2 separate regions of the Homo sapiens genome follow, and region 2 is linked to region 1. The links come from fine-mapping of genetic effects on gene expression. A gene starts in region 1. The other region holds a variant in brackets. All regions are shown on one strand. Distances are from middle to middle. Region 1 holds the start of ZNF496 (zinc finger protein 496). Region 2 overlaps ZNF496-DT (ZNF496 divergent transcript).

The links. PIP is the estimated chance that this variant, and not a neighbour inherited with it, causes the effect. A credible set is the group of variants that fine-mapping cannot tell apart.
Region 2: its variant is the best candidate, but not a certain one, in a credible set for the expression of ZNF496 in neutrophils (BLUEPRINT, PIP 0.59).

What each region holds. Positions count from the first base shown.
Region 1 is chr1:247,329,287-247,334,655 of GRCh38, forward strand. It overlaps ZNF496 (zinc finger protein 496), which reads right to left and starts at 2,581. Exons shown (of 10, transcript NM_032752.3): 1 at 2,504-2,581; 2 at 2,146-2,361; 3 at 680-795; 4 at 1-329. The coding sequence starts at 292. ZNF496-DT (ZNF496 divergent transcript) reads left to right here and starts at 2,768. Exons shown (of 3, transcript NR_168399.1): 1 at 2,768-3,960. RefSeq lists enhancers at 1-74, 2,461-2,755 and silencers at 1,619-1,858, 2,429-2,538, 2,669-3,148, 4,261-4,555.
Region 2 is chr1:247,354,092-247,359,460 of GRCh38, forward strand. All of the region lies in intron 1 of ZNF496-DT (ZNF496 divergent transcript), which reads left to right. Among named protein-coding and RNA genes, the nearest start is that of ZNF496-DT, 25 kb to the left of the region's middle. RefSeq lists an enhancer at 3,639-3,938. The variant C/CAGG (reference allele first, on the strand shown) is at 2,591.

The DNA.
Region 1 (5,369 bases):
TCTCCCGGGGCAGGATGGCCAGGAACTGCTCCAGCACCAGCAGCTCCAGAATCTGCTCCTTGGTGTGCCTCTCAGGCCGCAGCCAGCCCCCGCACAGGTCCCAGAGGCGCTGCAGGGCCTCCCGGGGGCCCGCCGCCTCCTGGTAGCGGAAACGGCGGAAGAGACGCCGAGAGGACTCGGGGCTGGGAAGCTCCCCCTGGGGGCTAGGGTTCTCTCCAGGTGGGCTCCTCATTTTCCTGGGCTCCTCACTTTCCTTCGGAGCCAAGACTCGGGGGCACAGGGCTGTGGGCATGATGGGATTTGATGGGGGTCAGCAGCAGAAGACGACCCTATTTCCAAACAGAAATCACTGGCTTCAGTGTTCTGGTCTCCTGTGGTCATTTCTGGGGGACAGTGACAAGGAAACTGTCAATGCCCTCAGAGACCAGCCCTTTGGAGAAGCCCTGGGAAAGGTAGGGAGTGTTGGTGTGGCTGGTCTTTACACACAGGATGAAACAGACAGAAAGATGCCCTCCCCCCATCAGTACCATTACGTGTGGATTCCCGTTAAGTGGGTGACTGGATGAACAAGACAGGAAATCTGGGAGAAAGTGGTGGCATTTCAACGTGACACTGCTGTTTTGAGCATCCCAGGAAACCAACAGCGCCACATGCAGATGTAATCAAGACGCTCTGGTACCTTGGGTGGCTGGGTCCTCCTGGAGAGATCCGAGATGGGCAGGCCAAGCAGGCCACTATCTTGAAGCTCCGGAGCCGAAGTCACTGTTCTTGTTATTAAGACCTTTACAAATGGAGCTGGAATGACAAAGACATGCATCGGATGAGCCTTCAAGCACATCCAGGAATGGAAAATCCACCCTTCTGGTGGCAGAGGGCTGATGGTGCTGCGTGCTGGATGGACAACCCAGCCAGAATCAGCTTTGCCCAGCAGAGTCTGCAATGGGAGGCAAGGGAAAACATCACATGAGACAGCTACATGCAGTCTACCAGGGACAAATAACACTGCATCTAGAAGTATCAGTGGTTTCCTATGAGCCTTCTGCCAATTCTGCCCTGACCTTCAACCTCGCCTCCACCCTATTCTCTATCCTTGCCCTCTTCAAACCACATTGAAGGCAACTGCACACTCGCCAAAGCCCTTCCTCGGCCAGGACAGAAAAGTGGGTCCGTCACTGCACAGCTCAGCCCTCAAAGAACCCCTGGACACTGCAGCTGCCACACCCCCAAGGTGGGACTCAGGGGTCCCTACACCTCCCCGCTGGTGTGCAGACAACTAGCCGACACTTTTGCCACAACTAGGGTGGCAAGAGACCAGCAACCAGTATACCTGGTGTTTATGATTCCCACTTTAGAACGCTGGGCCCGTGAAAGGGCACATGGGGACACTCACAGTCCCCTTCTCTGCCATCAGGCCTCTGTGATCCTTAGGACCGGCAGTGCCTGCCACTCCCCCATCTGCACGAGGTTGTCCAGCGTGGCCGCGTCTTAACCTCCAACAGCTCACAAGGTGGGAAGGGGGACTCGGGCCTCACTCCCATTTCACAGAAAGACAAGTGATGCCAGAAAAGCTACGGAACAACTGAGTGGTTCCAGAAACACCCACTGCTCTGAATCTCTTTGCTTTCCAAAGTAACAACATACACAGAAACCCATATGGGGGCCGTGGCGGCGTCGGGCTGGACGCATTACAGCGCTCCCCACCACCGGATCGCTTCCAGGGCGGCTCCGGCATCTGGAGCCCGGGGTGGGCCCCGCCCGCCCTGCTCGGCGGCCCCCTGCGGCGCCCATCACACACCTGCAGCGCCCAGGACTACTCAGGCCCGCCCCCCCGAGCACCGGCGCCCACCCGGGCTGCCACTCGGATCGTCTCCAACCAGACGGCCGCGTCCGTCTTTGTCACGGCGGCACCTGGCGCGTCGGAGGCTCGGAGGAGATGCCTGATGAATGAACTAACGTGAGTGAGGCGGAGGAGGGCCCCGCAGGGGCGGAGCGAGCTCCCAGCCTTTCGCGGAGGAGGGACCGAGCTGGATCGGCAGAAAGGGAAGGAGAAGGTCGCTGTGGGCCAGGGAAGGGGGAGCCCGCCCTCCGCGCCCTCGGTCTCCCTCACACGCGCGTCTCCCGTCTCGCCGGCTCCGGGCTCCTCACCTCACAGCCTGGAGCTCCCTCCCGGCGTCCGGCCGAAAACCCTCCTGTGGCGGCGGAAGTCCAGGGCAGCCGTCCTCATCCTCCCAGCCCGCCCGGCCGGGCGTACTCGCTGAGGCGGGGTCTCCGCAGGCGCCCGGCTCCTTTCCCGGCCCGTCCAGACCGCGTCTCCCGATCATCCGGAAAGCCACGGCTCGGCTCGGGGGCAAATGGAGGCGCCTGAAAAACAATGGTGTTGCTTTCTCCCCCGCCCGCACCTTCCTGAGCGCTGGGCTCTGGGCTGGGAGGCGGCGCCGCGGAGGCCGGGCGCGGGCCGAGGAGGGCGGGGCGGGGCCGGCCGCGGGAGCCGGGGTGCACTCACCGCCGCGGCGCGTCCCTGTTGGCGGGCGGCGCAGGCCTGGCCGCCGCGGGAGCCCGCCGGACGCCGAGGAAAGGAAAGGCCGGAGCCCTCCGGCTCCCTCCCCTGGGACACTTCCTGCTCCGCTCTAGGACTGGGGAGGTCTCCGCATCTCAGTGGTTCGCTCCCCCGCCCCCCGGCCGAGGTGTGCGCTGGGGGTGACATCCGACACCCCCGGCCCGCCCCGCTCCGCGCGCGCCTGGGCCTGGCCGCCGGGCCGGGGGCTTTGTGGGTCAGCCACGTCGCCGCGCCCGGGCTTCCCCGCGGGCCCGCCGGTCCGGAAGGTCGGCCCGGGGCTCTTTTCTCCGCTGTTCTCCTTCTCTGGCGCCCCCAGGACACGCGGCCAGTGGACGCCCGGAACGGCCGACCGGGAGTCGCGGCTGGGGATGGAAGCTGGAATTGGGGGTGCGGGATGGAGCGGAGAGAGGAGGCCCCGCGCGCCGTCGGCCGCCTCATTTCAGACTCCCCTGCGACCCCCCCCCCGCCGCCAGCCGAAGCCCGGGCCGCCCAGCCCCTCCTGCCGCTGCGGGACGCCGAAGGTAGCGCTCACATCCGCGCCTTCCGGGCCTGGCGCCCACGTGCGGAGTCCCCGGGTTAGGAAAGGCCGCGCATCCGGAGGCCACGCAGAGCCTCGGGGCTTGCGCAGAGGGGCTGCGGTGAGTCCTGACCCTGAGTGGGGGTCACGGGGCTCGTTGCTCGCTGAAGTGAACACGGTTGCAGCTGTGCACAGTGGCGGAGGGAGAGGATGAGGGACTCTGACCCAAGGTTATGTGGCAGTGAGGGGCAAGCAGAAATGGGGGCCTCCGGACCCCACCCCGAGACAGGGCTGCTGGCCGCTGCACTATGCTGAATATAGCCCAAATTCTTACATGGGTCGTCCCCGGGGAATGCTCATTTTTCAGGCTCCAGAGCTTGAGAGAAAGTGCGAACCCGGTCCCTGAGCAGGTCTGATTCCCATGGCCCCTTCGCCATCTGCTCTGCACCGAAATTGGATTCTCCTACGCAGAGGAGAAGGTGGAGAAGATTCTCCGTCTTCCGGAGGGTAGCTACTGCCGGTAGCTCCGATTTCCTTCGGATCCCCTTTCAAGGGCAAGCAGAAGGAAATCAGTTTCTCCAAAGAAAGTGGCCCGGCTGAGTAAGTGGGAACAAGGTGGTTGGACTGAGGCACGGGATCCTTTAGCTCCGTTGCTCTTCTAATCCCGTGGCCCTGGGCACCGCCACTTCCTCCTCTGAACTGCTGGAATAATCACTTCTGACTAGCAGAGTTACTGGGAGCCGCTGTTTGTCAGTGTTCACATTCTGACTTTAGCAGGAGATGGAGCGAGCGAAGGAGTGAAGCCCTTGTTTGTGAACAGTGATTGTTTCCCGGATGACAGCCAGATGCCGGGCAGGGCCACGCAGATCTTAGCTGGAGCCTACAGGTACAAGTGAGAGCCACCCCCTTTGACGTAACTGGACTGGCATTTACAGAACTCATGTACAGCCCACTCTCAGGAACACCAGCCAGGAACCGTGACATGGAGGAGAGGAATTGGGAGGAACCGAGGGGTCATCAAAGGCTGGTAGGGCTTAGGTGCTCTAGCAAACATCCTAGTCTGTGGGGTTCCAGAGCTCTGGTGCTACAGCTCCCAACCCTTTGATTGGCCCAGGAACTGGCTGTTGAGTGGGCATCCGTGTTCATAGCTCTGCCCCTTGCAACCCTAAAGCAGATAAAATGCAGGAGGCAGAAATTGCTGGCAGACAGCATCCAATTAATCCCCACTACCCAATTCAGTTTCTTCCCCTGACCTGACACGTCCCTGCCCAGCTGTGCCTCCCACTGTTCACCTTTTGAGGCACAAAACGGGCTGTTTATGCTGCTGCTGCATTTAGCTCAAAACAGGGCTTCAGAGTCAAGGTTCTGGACTCAGGCACCCGGATTAAATCCTGCCCTATGAATTCCTAGCCAGGTGACCTCAGGCCTACATAACCTTTCTGTACCTCAACTTCCTCATCCAGAAAACAGGGATGATGCTGTCTACCTCATTGGATGGTTGTGCAGGATCAAAGATTCAGTCATTCAGCAAACCTATACCGAGTACCTACTGTACACTCATGAGTGCTAGGCAGCCAGCCTTCCAGGTGCTCAGGTACATCTGTGAACACAACTGGCTATTGGAGGAAGCAAAATCAGTAACATGACCTGCTCTCTTTGATCTGTGCTACAGAAAAAAAGGAAAGTGGAGAGGCATCAGGAAGTCAGGAGTGCTGGGGAGGGGCTGGTAACAGTCATGGTATTAAAGAGGAGGGCAGGCAGGCCTTACTGTGAAGGTGGTATTTGAGATGAAGTAGTTGGTCAGAGTCCCTGTTTGACACATGGAGACCACCTTGACAGCAAAGGCCCTAAGGGGGAGCGGTGCGAAGCAAGGTGGGCTGGTGAGTGAGAGGAGAGGGATGGCATAGAGCTGGGTGGGGGCACAGGAGCCCGTGGGGAAGGTGTTCGCCTCTGAATGAAGTGGGGTTGTATCAGATACCACGGGTGAAGCATCGGGAAGAGGATCCTGCCTGTAAACCCTGCTCAAGGACTGCACCATCATCATGCCCAGTGTGTGCGTGTATTAGGTTTGTATGAATATAATGTTGCCAATTGTATCTGTTTTTATGAAATGTTTGCTATGTGCCAATGATTATTCGATCCATGGGGAGACCATAGAAGAATGATCCAAGGAGTTGGGAGGGGAATCAAATAATAAATCAGCGATTCTGCAATATAACGCCATTGGTGATCGGTGTCATGAAAGAAATACAACATGGTGGGGAAGAGTGTGCTGGGGATGTTCAGGTAGGGCCT
Region 2 (5,369 bases), 25 kb after region 1:
CCGGGAAGATCGTAACCCCATAGTACTCGACCAATGAAGAACTAGCGGAGGGACTTGTGTGCTAGAAGATAAATTACCTGTTGTGACTGCCCCAGTTGTGCCTGCCCACCAGACACCTGATCTTGCAAGACCGTTACTAAATGTCTCCTTTTCACTGTTCTTCAGGCCTCTAAGTCCATTCTCTGGATTTGGACAGGTGAGTGTGTTTCTCACAAGCATGGGGGCCCATCTGGGATCCATGTGCCTGTGTGAAGTGGGACTTTGGCCGAGAGGGGAGATGTGTCCCACCTGATTTAGGTGGCCCGCTCTATCTGGGCATCCCAGCTTCCCATAGAAGGCATAAACAAACCCAAGACTATTATTCAGGAGGCAGCAGAAGCAACACAGGGAGAAAAGCAGGCACTGCGGGAACCAGGCAAACTCATGCACCAGCCAAGGAAGGAAAATTGGACTGTAAGTACTGCCTTGGTCATGGGGCATTTTTGGAGGTCTCGGGGTGTGCAAGAAACCTCCAGTAAGGGGGGTTGAGTAGACAGGGAAAAACTCAGACGCAGAGACTGGCAGAAAATGGGAAACAGGAATTCTAGGCCTGGGAGCCAAAGGAAAGAGGGAGCCAAAGAGACTCCGTCTGACATTCCCCTGGATAGTCCTTTGGGGAGATTGTTGCAGGTTTGGTGGAACAACCCTCGAACCAGGGACAAGGAAAAGGAAAAGATGATAAAGTATTGCTGTTTTGTCTGGCCCAAAGACCCCATTCATAAGCCTTCTGTCTTTTGGCCTAAGTTTGGCTCAGATGAGGATTGTGTTCTAAGCTTTAATTCTCTCTGTGAATAATAAAACTTCATCCTCACAAGAAGAGATAGGTTACTCTCTGCTGAATCAAGGAATTAGCCCCCATGATCCCCCTCAAAAAAGAAGAAAAAGAGCCTGGTGAAGAGCCCTCACCCAGTGAAAAGCCCTGGGACCCCCTATCGTGCTTGCCCCTTCATACGTCTCACAAAAAAGGGGACAGGAAGATCAAGGGGCAGCAGGAGGGTTAGAGGAAGAAAGACCCAGAGACTACAGGGGAGCCAAGCCAACTGCTCCTTTAAATCCTTATCCAAATTTAAGAAAAGAATTACAAGAGTGTAAGAGGGATATTGAGAACTTCCCTATCCCTTCCACACAGCAGGCATCTAGCATGTTCCCTCTTAGGGAAGTTCCCATGGGACAGGGAGAGATTGGCTTTGTAAACACTCCTCTTGCAAGTACTGAAGTTAGGAATTGCAAGAAGGAAATGAAACCACTCCTAGAAGATCCCCTGGGTTTAGCAGACCAGCTGGACCAATTCCTAGGACCCAGCTTTTACACTTGGGCTGAAATGATGTCTATCATGAATATCCTGTTCACGGGAGAAGAAAGGGGAATGATTAGGAGAGTGGCCATGACCAGTGGGGAGAAGCAACACCCTCCTGGGCAGTGAGACTTGCCAGCCAAACAAAAATTTCCAAATGTTGATCCCGAATGGGATAATAATGATCCCAGGGACTGGGCCCAAATGCAGGACCTCAGGAAACTAGTAATTCAAGGGATCAAAGAGTACACTCCTAGGACACAAAATGTCTCAAAGGCATTTGAGATTCAACAAGAAAAAGAGAAAACTCCCTTCACATTCCTGCAGAGGCTCAGAGATGAGAAAATACTCCAGATTAGATCCGGAGGACCCAGTAGGGCAAGGCCTGTTGCAGATTAACTTTGTTACTAAAAGCTGGCTTGACATTACAAAAAAAAAAATTACAAAAGATTGATGGATGGAATGAGAAACCGATTGAGGAATTACTGAGTGAAGCTCAGAAGGTCTTTGTGAAAAGAGGGGAAGAGAAGCAGAAACAGAAAGGGAACATCATGATTTCCACTGTGGAAGAGGTAGCCAAAAAAAGATTAGCTCAAGATCCCCCTCAAATGAGACAAGGGAATGATAGATTTCGACACAGAGAAAGAAAGGAAATGCAGGGGAAACCTCCTAAGACTATGAGTGGCTAGATGTTACAAGTGTGGAAAGCCAGGGCATCTTAAGAGAGAATGTCCTCAATGGAAAAAAGAAGAAGAGATGATCCCCCTCATGACCGTTGATGAATACAATGGGGGTCAGGGCTTCCTTCTGAGTAGGTCCCACCAAGAACCCTTGATAAATTGGAAGGCGGGACCTTAGGGAGAAGAAGTGACATTTTTGGTTGACACTGGGGCAGCTCACTCCTCCCTAATCCACAAACCAAAGGGTACAGAACTCTCTAAGGAAAAACTGAAAGTATTAGGCGTAAAAGGGGAGGGATTACAGGTTCTGATATTCAAGACAATGTTAATTAGACTGGGACCAGAACACATTGAGGGGTCACTCTTATATATTCCTGAAGCAGGAACTAACCTAGTGGGTAGAGACCTGATTGTGAGATTCAGTTTAGGATTAGGGATACACAGAAAGGACAAATGAAAGTAAGGATGGGCCTCCTAACAGAGGAGGAGGGAAGAAAAATTAGTCCCGTTTTGTGGTTTGGGAAAGGCAAGCGGGGACACTTAAGAATCACAGCCTTACAGATTGGACTAAAACAAC[C/CAGG]AGGAGGAGTTTGCAGAAAACAATATCCCATTTCTGTTGAAGGGAGAAAAGATCTCCAACCAGTAATAGAGGGATTAATTAAAAATGGACTGTTAGAACCCTGCATGTCACCATATAATACTTTTTTTTTTGAGATGGAGTTTCACTCTTGTCATCCAGGCTGGAGTGCAATGGCATGATCTCAGCTCACTGCACCCTCCACCTCCCGGGTTCAAGCAATTCTTCTGCCTCAGCCTCCTGAGTAGCTGGGTGCGTGCCACCACACCCAGCAAATTTCTTTTTGTAGTTTTAGTAGAGATGGGCTTTCACCACATTGGCCAGGCTGGTCTGGAACTCCTGACCTCAGGTAATCCACCCGCCTCAGCCTCCCAAAGTACTGGGATTACACGCTTGAGCCTGTGCCTGGCCAATACTCTAATTCTTTGTGTTGCTTATCTGGGAGGGAGAGATTCTGTGTCTATTCCCAGCCATCTTTTTGCAGCTGCAGGCATCTCCCACCGCCCCCCCATCCCAGTCAGCTTTAGCTTCCCTATCTTAATGTGCCTAAAGGGAAAGGAATGTGCTTATTAAGGCCCACTGTTTATACTGGGCCCGACTGTGGGAGTGTGAAGTTTGGTGTTTACCCAGGAGACATCCCCCGCCTCCTTCTATGCTTAAGTTGTTTATCTGTAGTTTATAGCCTGAACTTTCAGGCTACCCTTTGTTAAAAGAGAAGTGATTTCTTTGAACCGCACGAGATTAGAAAGGAAGCTATTTCAAGAGTGTTAAGGGGAATTATGGAAGGTTTACAAATTTGATGGGATTATCCCACCCCTTGGCATCCTGTGGAAAGGTAAAAAGAATAAACCAAACTCTCAAAAAGCATCTCACCAAACTAAACTTAGAAACTAAAGTGCCTTGGACCAAATATCTCCCATGGCTTTAGGATTAGGATTCGGACAGTCCCCAGAAAAGACTTGGGATTGTCCCCTACAAGTTATTATATGGACTCCCATATTTGGGCAGGGCTACAGATCCTCCCACTATGGAAACCAAAAACCAATTCTTAAGAAATGATATACTGGCCATATCTTCCACCCTGTCATCCCTCAGGTTAAAAGGTCTTCTGACGCAAGCTCTGCCTCTTGAGTTCATGGTTCACTACTTCCAGCCTGGCAACTTGGTGCTGACTAAGATTTGGAAAGAAGACAAGCTCCACCCAAGCTGGGAAGGTCCCTGTCAAGTGCCTCTGCCCCTGAGACAGCCCTGCGAACAGCTGAATGGGGGTGGACTCACTACACTGGAATCAAGAGGCCGGTAAAAGAGACCTGGAAAGGGAAGGAGAAAGAACAGTGGGAAGTGCATGGGTCACCTGACGAACACTTAAAGTTAACTCTGAGAAAAATTTAGAAAGAAAGCGTGGGCTGGCTGCATTTCTGAAAGGTAATAAGGCTGGGATGGGTTAGTATACAAAGAGCAGAAGGTCAAAATGGAAACTGGCAGGGGACTCCCCACTGCTCAATCAGGTTGGTGATTAATATGATTAAGACGGTAGCACCCCAAACTATAAGATTTGATGCCTGTCAGGTTTTACCTTGTGGGAATTTAGAAAATCAGAGACAGCTCTCGCAGGCAGATAAATCTCTTTGCCTTGAACCAGATGCAGGTTGCAGTAGGGCATCACCCTTCCCCAGCTGGGAGGATGTATGGTGCGCTACCCAATTTCAGGGTTGGACAGTAAACATGGTGTGGGTAACTCCAAACTGGAAACCCTTGAAGCATAAACTACCTCTGTCCAAGCGCTCCCCACCAAATAACTGCCAGAATTTAGAATGCCATCCTATACTCATCACCCTTGACAATTCAGCCTTTCTAGACCAAGAACCAAAAGTAGCATCTCAGGTATATGGGTTAGGAGAAGACATCACAAGGAAAGACCCCCAGGTCGATTTGATCTCAGGCTAATCAAGAACTCAACCTCCCATTTGCCTGGAACTACTCCAACCCCAGACCCTAATAAACACTTTAGTCTACCAAATATTAACCCTAAAATGGTAACAATAATTGAGGTAAAGGATTTAAGGCAAACCTTAGAAATTGAGACAGGGTATAGGGATGTGAATGCCTGGGTCAAATGGGTCATATTTTCGGTACAAGCCCTCAGCAAAAGTAACTGCTACGCGTGTGCTGCAGGACCACCTCAGGCGCAGGTGGTTCCGTTTCCCCTGGGATGGAATAGTGATTCTAGAGGAATGTGTTGCATGTTGGCTGCATACCAGCACAATGATATAAGTAAGGAGAAGTAAGACTTGTAAGAGTCTTTCATTGCTGTTTCCTGCATTGCGGAGCTCAGATCCCAGAGCAATACCCTCGTTCTCTGCAGAGAACATGAACTACTCCTCTTGCCTCTCTAGACAGGGGGCAGAGTTCCATAAGCCTATGGGAGAACTCTCAACTTGTACCCACATCCTAAACGTCACTGGTGAGTTGAGCAATGGCAATTACTCAGCTCTCCATACACCCCGGGCTGATGTCTGGTAGTATTATGGGAAAAGGAACCTACGTAACCTGTTACTGTCCAATGGGACCAGGACTTGTGCTTTAGTCTCATTGGCCATTCCCTTCACCCTGGCATCCCATAAGATACCCCAAAATACACATGGCCACTGAAACCAGAGAGATTTCACAAATTCTTTTAATCCCAATGTGTATGTTGACTCAATAGGAGACCCTGGTGGGGGTAGGGTTGCCTAATAAATTGAAGGCCTGAAACGCAGTAGGTGCTGGGTTTAAAGTCAGG